2 linked regions of the Homo sapiens genome follow. The protein of the gene in region 1 purifies or fractionates together with the protein of each later gene. This does not show direct contact. Each region holds a gene or a part of one and is shown in the gene's direction. Other genes may lie near its edges.

Evidence for each region. Proteins that work in one complex are often made in the same cells at the same time.
Region 2: the proteins of CYTH3 (region 1) and HHIPL1 purify together in Homo sapiens (co-immunoprecipitation; one large-scale study listed by IntAct). This does not show direct contact.

The regions. Positions count from the first base shown.
Region 1 is NC_000007.14:6,163,687-6,168,523, reverse strand, and holds part of CYTH3 (cytohesin-3), read left to right. Parts: intron 1-2,713; coding exon 2,714-2,790; intron 2,791-2,907; coding exon 2,908-2,979; intron 2,980-3,096; coding exon 3,097-3,251; intron 3,252-3,507; coding exon 3,508-3,580; 3' UTR 3,581-4,837. UniProt on the Homo sapiens protein: Promotes guanine-nucleotide exchange on ARF1 and ARF6. Promotes the activation of ARF factors through replacement of GDP with GTP. Plays a role in the epithelial polarization.
Region 2 is NC_000014.9:99,657,799-99,662,635, forward strand, and holds part of HHIPL1 (HHIP-like protein 1 isoform a precursor), read left to right. Parts: intron 1-1,629; coding exon 1,630-1,958; intron 1,959-2,481; coding exon 2,482-2,608; intron 2,609-4,837.

The DNA.
Region 1 (4,837 bases):
CTGCTGTGTTCTCAGAAACAAAGTTCGAGACCAAAGGCTGGCGAGCCAGGGCCCTGGCTGGAGGCAGACGAGATGGGTGCAGGATCTAGAACGTGCTTCCAGGCGTGTGCTCAGCGGGGAGTGCGGCCTGGCTTGGTTGCATTCTTATTGTAGATTTGCTTTTAGAACAGGTGGTCTTAAAAAGGCCTGGATGCTTTGCCAGAGCGTAGGAGCCCTGCTGTGTACACAGGCGTGGCTTACGATTGTTGGTAACTTAAGACTTCGAGTCTTGAATCAATCACCAGAAAAAAAAAAAAAAAAAAAATCCTAGGAGGTGGCCCAATCCGAGCTGCCATACAGAAAGTGTGTGCATGTGGACCTGTGTGTGCACGTACGCGCCTGCCTGCTAACGGCAATGAAGACAGAAACTTACAGAGAGAAAGTGGCTCCCATCTGCAGGTTCCAGAAGCCAGGCTCTTGTCTGCAGGCGAGAATGCTGTGTGGTGTGGCCAGAAACAAGTGTGAGCAGAGCCTGCTCGGCTCTGAGACCAAGCTTATCACCCCTTCCCTGGGCCTGCAGTCCTGGTCTGCAACGACCCCCTGGCCCTGAGGACTGGACAGGGATGGGGCTCTGCATGGGAGGTGTGAGCGGGGGACCCAAGGTGGAGCTGAGAGGCCACCTGGCAGACCCCTCCCAGGCGGGGCCAGGTGTGTGGGCTAGTGGAACATACAGGTCCTTTGCTGTCCACCATGCTGGGAGCGTGGAGGAAGAGAGCAGGCGCTGGACAGAAACACACAACCTGGGGGCTCCTGGATGAGCTCCCCAAGAACTGGAGACTCAGATAACAGGGCAGGGAGAAAGGCCACAGCTGGGGAGCCAGGAAGGGCAGCCCCTGCTGCCGCCCAAGGAGTTGGGTTTAAAGCTGAGTGCAGTGGGACCCTTTGGGGGGCTTCAAGCCGGAGGGGCATGATTGCCACGTTTTTGAAAAGATGCCTTTGGCCGCTGTTTGGGGGATGGCAGCTGGCACCAGTGCAGCTGGAGCGGGGCCTGCTCTGGAGTCTCTGGAGGGAAGCAGAGGCGACCGTGACAGTGACGGATGTCAGGGTAGTGGAGTTGCTGTCAGCTGATTCTGCCACAGCAGTTCAAGCTGGAGCAAGTGCCTGGAAGGAATCAGCACTGTCCTCCTGTCCCTAGGGTCTCGGGGACATAGAACACCTCTCACTGCTCACTGGAGGACTGTGGGACAAGGCAGGTTGCCCCCAGGGTCTCCTGCCCTCCCCTGTGGACTTGGGCCTCCCTGGTGTGCTGCAGTGGAGGTGGGGAAGGTGAAGGCCAAGGGCTTGCAGAGAGCATGGAGCCCGCGGTGAGACAGGGACACGAGGGCAACAAGGACTTTGGGCCTTGCTGTGGGCCTGGCTGGGTCTTAAAGGGGACCAGTGAGGCGGTGCCACAGTTGGGGCAGAGGGTTCCAGTGACGGAGCAGCTTGCAGGGGTTCGGGGAGTGGAAGCCCCGCCAGGGCTCAGGAGAGATGTTGGGGGCAGGGTCTGAGGGCTGGGGAGATGCAGCAGAGAGCTTGGGGGCAGATTTGCCCAGACCAGGGTCTAGACAGACCCTTTAACAGGTAGGCTGGTGGGACACTGATGAGACTGGGGCCTGTGGGGAGAGGAGGAACAGCTGGAGGCTGGGCTCCTGTTCCAGGCTGGCGGTGGCAACCGCATTGCAGGCTGCCTTAGGCATCAAAGGAGGACGGCAGCACTGAGTGAGGCAGGGGCCAGAGGGTCCCAGAGGGACTGCAGAGACCCGCTTCCGGCCTCCAGTTCCGCTGAGCCAGGCTTCCTCCCACCTGCAGCTGGTTCCTCCTCACCCAGGGTCTCTGCAAACCAGGCCCCAACAGGGAAAGCCCCCTGTGTCCTGGTGATCCATCCACAGAGCCCTTCGCACACAGTCTTGCCTCCAGGCCTCAGCGCCCGTGCTGGCCCCCACTTAGGGAGGGAGGGCTACTCCCCTGCCGGCCTGTCACAGAGAAAGCCGGGTGAGCTCCGCAGCGCTGGAGAGGCATGGGGCAGAGAGGGCCTAGTACCCCAGGGAGCACTTGAGTTCATTGTCACCAGCGTGTATTTCTTTGAATTATTTAAAAAACAAACACCGGCAAGGCTATAGCAGCTGAAGTCAGTTTGTCTCTGCTCAGTGTTTAAGGATCAGAGATTTCCTTCCCTTAGGGAGAGGAGGGCAGGTACAGATGGGGGTACGTGCGTGTGCACGTGTGCTCCAGATCTTGTTACAAAATTAATTCAGTCTCACGATTCCTTGGGCCCAGGGGTGACTGATTTTGATGGATCCCAGGGCTGCCCAAGGGCCTCTGTAATGCGATAACCACCTGACATGGTGGGGTCAGGTCCTGGACAGAGCCAGGCGCGCAGTCCTGACTTCATCACACTGCCATCTCATGTGGGAAAATGACGCCATCCATCCCACTAACTCTCCCAGGAAGCGAATTGTAGCGCGGTTGTGTCATCAAGGGGCCCATCAGTGCCGTGGAGGGGGCGCCGGTGTGGGCGGGGTGGGTGCATGTGGGGCCCTGCGGTGGGAACGCTGAAGGACACCTGAACCCAAGCCTGGCGCCTGGTGGCCTTTCTGAAAACGCAGTGGTCTGTGCAGGTCCAGGGCCCCCTCTTGGACCCGCGGGCTCCCTGTGCACGGAGCGCAGACTCACGGGGCCCTTCTGCTTCTAGGAGGGCGTGTGAAGACCTGGAAGCGCCGGTGGTTCATCCTGACCGATAACTGCCTCTATTACTTTGAATACACAACAGTAAGTAAGGGCCAGGCCTCCTTGCCGCCTCCCAGCAGTCCCGGAGCTGCCCTGGGGCCGAGGGACCCTCAGGCTGGTGACCCACAGTGAGCCCCGCCGTGTACTTTCCTCTTGTAGGATAAGGAGCCCAGGGGAATCATCCCGTTGGAAAACCTCAGCATCAGGGAGGTGGAGGACCCCCGGAAACCCGTAAGCTCTTCCTCCTGAACCTTCTCTCCTGCCAGCCACCTGGGAGCCATCCTCACTGCCTGCAGGGAACCTGCCCCAAGCCCCCCTGACCGCCTCCCCTCTCTCTTTCTCCACCAGAACTGTTTTGAGCTCTACAATCCCAGCCACAAAGGGCAGGTCATCAAGGCCTGTAAGACTGAGGCCGACGGCCGCGTGGTAGAGGGGAACCATGTGGTGTACCGGATCTCAGCCCCGAGCCCGGAGGAGAAGGAGGAGTGGATGAAATCCATCAAGTGAGTGGGGCCTCGGGGGCGGGGCCAGGCCCGTCTTCTCGTGCCGGTTGGAGGGCGGGGGATGGTCTGGAACATGGATGCTTCCGTGTGCAAGAGTGGACCTTCTGTCTCCAGAAACCCCAGAGGGCCGGGCTGCCAAAGCCGACGTTCAGATCTGAGCCTGCGGTCCTGTCTGAGGGGCCTCTGGGGCTGGTGGGAAAGGGGAGGTCTGTGTGTCACCCACGACCTAACCTGTGTGTTTTCCTTTTTTCACCAGAGCCAGTATCAGCAGAGATCCCTTCTATGACATGTTGGCAACGAGGAAACGAAGGATTGCCAATAAAAAATAGCTTTCCTGGCTAAAAGACCCAGGTAAAAGACCCAACCCCAGCAGAAAGACACCGCGGGCGGCCCCTCCGCGGAAGGCGTGGCAGGGAGGCAGTCGCCCTGCGGTGCAAGCTGCTGCTCCAGAGCATACCGTGGCCCAGGTGGTATCCCCAAGGCCTCGTGCCGTGGCTGGGGTCCTGGGAGGTGGTCGCCCTGCAGTGCAAGCTGCTGCTCCAGAGCGTACCGTGGCCCAGACTGATCCTCGAGGCCTCCTGCCGTGGCTGGGGTCATGGTCGGCTGCGCATGTCCAGAAGCATTTCCTTCCTGCGACCATCCCGGCGCCCCTAGGGGGAGAAGCCAGGACAGCAGCTTCCGCTGTCTCCACAGCAGACACGGGACGGATTCCACAGACGGGAGCCTCATTCGTACCATGCCAAACGCATTCACTCGGGGCAGTATTAACCGTTCTAGAAAGCCACTGTTTTATAGCAAAACAGGAAAGGAAAAGCTACCAGTTTTTTATTCAGAATTTTTCTCAGATATATAGGATTATAGCTTTTATATGCCTTTTTATATTCTGAAATTATAACAAAAGATACTTTCTAACAGTAGTATTTTTAGAATGGCAGCTATAAAGTTAACTCCTGGACACAAGTATATACTGTGCACTGAAAAAATATCCATCTACACAGCACCCAAGGGGAGGGCTGGGGGCACCGGCACGGGGGCAGCGTGCAGCCCTGCCCTGTCAGGCTGTCAGACAAGCCCCGGGGGGCAGCAGGTGGGCTCGGGACGGGCTGGGGGAGGGACGGCCATGGCACTTGGGGGCTCCAGGGTGACTCCCATGAGGCCTCCCTTCAACCAGGCTTTTTGGCCCCACAAATACTTTAAGCAAATCATTAAAATTATAACAGTTAATGGTTTGGGGGTGTTTAGGCTGTAACTGCTAACTCCTAGGAAACAGCCTTTTCCCTGGACACAGATGGTCCATACGCTGAGCCACGTGAAACTGCTGATGTTTTGTTTAGATGCACACACATGGCAGCGTTTCATACAGGTCAGCAGGTTAGACCGGCTTTTGACCATATTCATCGCTATTTAAAACCTGTGGCAAAATGAACGCTTATTTTACAGACTTTCTAATTTGACCAGATTTCTTAATGAATAGACACAGAATTAACTAAAAACAGTCTCACCCCATGTAGTGCGCCGTGTCCTGAGAGAGGTGCCCTCCCTACGAGGAGGGAAGAACAGGCCCTGGGGTGCAGAGGCCCGGCACG
Region 2 (4,837 bases), on another chromosome or scaffold:
ACACACATACATATGCATGCACACACACATTCACATATGCACATACCACATACACACAATACACACACATATACACACACATCCACACACATCCACATACATCCACATGTACACACACATACACACATACATACACATACACACATCTACATACATACATACCTTCACACACATACATACACACAGTCTTGGGAGTGTAAACAGGATGTCCAGGAGTCTCAAGTCAGCCTCCCCCATTCCCTTAGCCAAAATGGTAAAACCTTCCTCAGCCCAGGAAGTAAAAATAGCAAGTATGATGTTGATTACAGTAATTAAAGTGCTCACAATTTGTGAGTTGTCCTTTCACGTGTGACAGTGTAAGCATCATCCCAGCTTTCTCACGTTTGGGATGTGTTTAGAGATGAAGTTGAGAAAACAGAAATTAAGGATTAATGGATAATTGGACAGAACTTAAAAACATTATTTTGCTGCTACAAGTTGTGCCCACTTAGATATCGAATCCTGGCATGTGACGCGTGGGTTCAGGGGTGTGATCTGGATGGTGTTCAGCAGGCTGGAGTGTATGAGAGGAATTTACGGGGGAAAGTAGAAGGCCAGCAACAGGGGCTTGATCACAAGGCATATATCGGGTGGGAGCGTTTCATCACCGTGAAAGAGGATACTTGTTTGCTGTCCCTACTGATAAGGGAAAGGTGTGGGTGCTAACGCTATGTGAGGATGATGGAATACAGCTTCACAAACCCTGCCTTGAAAAGCAACCCAGAGGGAGGACACCAAAATGCTAACAGCAAGGGAAACTGATGCATTCAGTCGGTGCATCAGAAATCACCGCTGAGAAGGGCATGTTCTCCGCACTGTCTTTAAGCACATTACAGATTTTTCCCATCACGCGTCACTTTTGTCATGAGCTATCCTCCTTAGCTGCTTGGAGCTTAGGGCTGCACCCCTCTGCTCTCTCCCCCTCTCCCCACCAACCCGCACGCTGGTGCATTTGGCTTTGATTGCAATCCTTCATTCACTGACTCTGCACTTAATGGTCACCTACTATGTGCTGGTCACAGTGCCGAGTACTGGAAGAAAACTGTAAATACAAGTCATTTTTTCTAGTGGAATTTTCACCCTATACCACAGTCCGGGAGGACTGAATGGTCTGAGCGGGACCACTCTACTATTACAGTTGAGGACACCAAGATTCCACAGAGTGTGTGGTAAAGAGCTTGAGTTTCTGGGCCCAGGCTGTCTGGGCTGGATCCCAGCGGTGCGGCAACTGGGCGATGTTATTTGAGCTTTCTGAGCTCCGCTGCCACATCTGTAAAGTGGGGATCATACTAGGACACACCTACCTAAACGACTGTTGTGAGGACAAGACGAAATAGATGATGTGTTGTGTCCAACGCATGGGACAGGCCTGGCGCACAGGAAGGTGGGGGATGCATGTTGAGTGAATGAATGGTTACCCGGCTGTAAGTAGTTAAGGCGGACAGCATCCCAGGGTCTCTGGCCCCACAGCCTAGGCTCACCCTGCACCTGGCTCAGCGGTCAGCCGGCGCCCCAGCACCTGCCCCGCGGAGCCCGTGAGCCCTGGCTCAGGGCGACCCCGAGCCGCGCCCTCTCCCACCCCGCCCGCAGGTCGGCGCTGCTGGGCAAGGTGCTGCGCATCGACGTGGACCGTAAGGAGCGCGGCCTGCCCTACGGCATCCCGCCCGACAACCCGTTCGTGGGCGACCCCGCGGCGCAGCCCGAGGTCTACGCCCTGGGCGTGCGCAACATGTGGCGCTGCTCCTTCGACCGTGGCGACCCCTCCTCGGGCACTGGCCGCGGGCGCCTCTTCTGCGGCGACGTGGGCCAGAACAAGTTCGAGGAGGTGGACGTGGTGGAGCGCGGCGGCAACTATGGCTGGCGCGCGCGCGAAGGGTTCGAGTGCTACGACCGCAGCCTGTGCGCCAACACCTCTCTCAGTGAGTGCCCGCGCCCCGGGGACCCCGGCCCCGAATCCGCCCCCACCCCACCCCACCTGCTGTGCCGCAGGGCCTCCCTCGGAGACCGCACCCCCCCCCCCCCGGAGATCCCTGACCCTGAGTCTGTCCTCGGCCCCACTCTATGGGCTGTGCGGCAGGGCCTCACTCGGGGACCACCCGCACCCCAGGCACCCCCTGACCCTGGATCTGCCCCCACCCCAACTCCACGGGCTGTGAGCCAAAGCCTCCTTCGGTGACTGCCCCCGCCTCCACCCGGAGCCTCCCTGCGCCTTGGAGGCCTCCCAGCAGCGCTCTTGAGTTCTTCCTCGCTCCATCCCCACCTGGCACCCCTGCAGACACGCTTTCCACCACGCCAGCCCTGCTGTGGGCACGCCAGCCCTGCTGTGGGCACGCCCCTCCCTCCGTGGCCGCCCCACCCCCGCGGAATCCCTCCGGAATTCTCCTGGCTGATGAACCTTCCCGCCGCTGGCTCACCGAAGCTTCTCTCCCTCCCACCCCGCAGATGACTTGCTGCCGATTTTCGCCTACCCGCACACGGTTGGCAAGTCGGTCACAGGGGGCTACGTGTACCGGGGCTGCGAGTACCCCAACCTGAACGGCCTCTACATTTTTGGGGATTTCATGAGCGGGTAAGTGACCTAGTGCCCTCGCGCCCCTGGCTGCTGCCACTGGCTCCTTGGGACTGGCTCCTTGGTAAAGGGGAGTGTATGTGTGCGCCCGTTCCTGCACATGTGCCTCGCTGCTCTGACAGGGGCCCCTAGGTGTGGGCCGGACACCCGCATCCACCCGCTTTTCTCCTGAGATGTATGGTGAGCCTTTGCTGCAGGCCTCAGTACCTCTATGATAGACACACAACTCATGGCATTAAAGACTGGAGGCTTGCTTAAGTGCGGGTCCCGTGGTCTTCCTCTCCCTCCTGAGAACCATGGGCTCTGGGCCTGACAGCAGTTCTGATGGGCAGGAGGGCAGAATATGAACAATTTCCTGGACACTCAGGGCCACCCTGCTCCTGGGGAAGCCACAGCTTGTCACTGCAACAGCTGATGGGGGCCTGGAGCCCTGCCCCACCCCACCCCAGCCAGGACTGCAGGGAGCTTGCAAAGGTTGAGAAACTAAGACCCGAGAGAACAGTGGCTGCCCATGGGCCTCCTAATGGGGAGAGGAGGAGGTGGGGCTCTTGTGGCCTTGGAGCCTTGCTGCCCTGCCCCCGTGCTCTAGGGCAGCAGTACCACCCACTGAGACCCTGCTGTGGGAGGAGGATGAATCACATCCCAAATAGGTTTGATGGGGGAGGGAAACCTACATCACAACCCTCCTTCGAGTCAGGCTCTGTCCCCAAGGGTGCTTATGGAGCCTCGTGACCACCTTGTCCCATTTACAGAGGAGAAAGCTGAGGACTAAAGAGGCCCAAGGGCAGGCTGAGACGGCTTGGTCTGAACTCTGGCTCAGTTACTGGCCAGGTGACCTTGAGCCAGTTACTTCACCTTTCCTTATCTTCAGCTACCTCATCTGCAAAATGGAGATGATCATAGTACTTGCCCCTAGGGTGGTTTTAAGGACTGAATCAGTTAATACATAAATATCACTTAGAATCTAGTGTGGAAAGAAAGAAAGAGAGAGAAAGAAAGAGAGAGAGAGAGAAAAGAAGGAAGGAAGGAAGGAAGGAAGGAAGGAGTACATGCTTAATATATGGTGATTTTTTTTTTTTGAGACAGGGTCTCATTTTGTCACCCAGGCTGGAATGCAGTGGCACAGTCTCAGCTCACTGCAGCCTCCACCTCCCAGGCTCAAGCAATCCTCCCACCTCAGCCTCCTGAATAGTTGAGATTATAGGCATGTGCCACCACGCTTGGCTAATTTTTGCATTTTTTGTAGAGATGGGGTTTTGCTCCATTGCCCAAGCTAATCTTGAACTGGACTCAAGCAATCCTCCTGCTTTGGCCTCCCAAAGTGCTGGGATTACAGGCTGAAGGTACGGTGCCCAGCCTGGTGTTTCTTACTTATTTCCATGCAACCTCCTCTGGCAGCAGCCGAATAGGGTTCCTAAGGAGAGGGAATAAAGACATGAAGATGCCTGAAGCTAGTGGGAGAATTCTGATTTTGTGTCCAGCCTGCAGCCTGGAGCTGAGAGAGATACCTGACCTGGGCCCCTGGAAGTTGGATTCCTCTCCCAGATCCGCCCCTTCCCCGGGGACCCAGCTTTCCCATCTGGAAAATGGGTACAGATGAAGCCTCTGTTTTTACCCCTGATTCTCCTTTCTCCCTTCTGTCCTTCCCAGGAGAGCCCAAGTCTCCTGACCACAGAAATTCAACTAATTTTGCCAGTATTTTCCCAGCCGCTCTGCTGGGTCAGGCAAGAACCAGGATGACAGAGATGAATAGGACCCCTCGTACCCGAGCCAGGGAGACAGACCCATTCAGTCCACTGCACTGCAACCCCAGAGAGCCTGTGCACAGTGTCGGGGAGCCCAGCATGGGGGCCTTCAGGGAGGGCTTCACAGAGGAGGGGACATCTCTAAGCAGGGCCTGGAAGTATTAATAGGTGATTGACAAGCAGCGATGGGAGTAAGGAGCAAGGTTAGCATATTCCAAAGATGTTGGAGCTCCAGTGCTTGGCAGGTTCTGAAACCAGTGAGCTCTTGAAAGCGCTGTGCCCTCTGTAGGATCCAGTGGGCTGGATTGCATTCAGCGGGCAGTAACCAAGCCGGTCTTGTTCGTTCCTGTGGGTGTCTGGTAGGTGCTGGGTGAAGATTGCACACAGTGACAGCTTCATGGACATACCACATGTGCAGTCACAGAGGGCCCGGTACCCAGAAAGGTTCACCCTTGATCTCATGCTCTGTGGTCACCATCTTGAA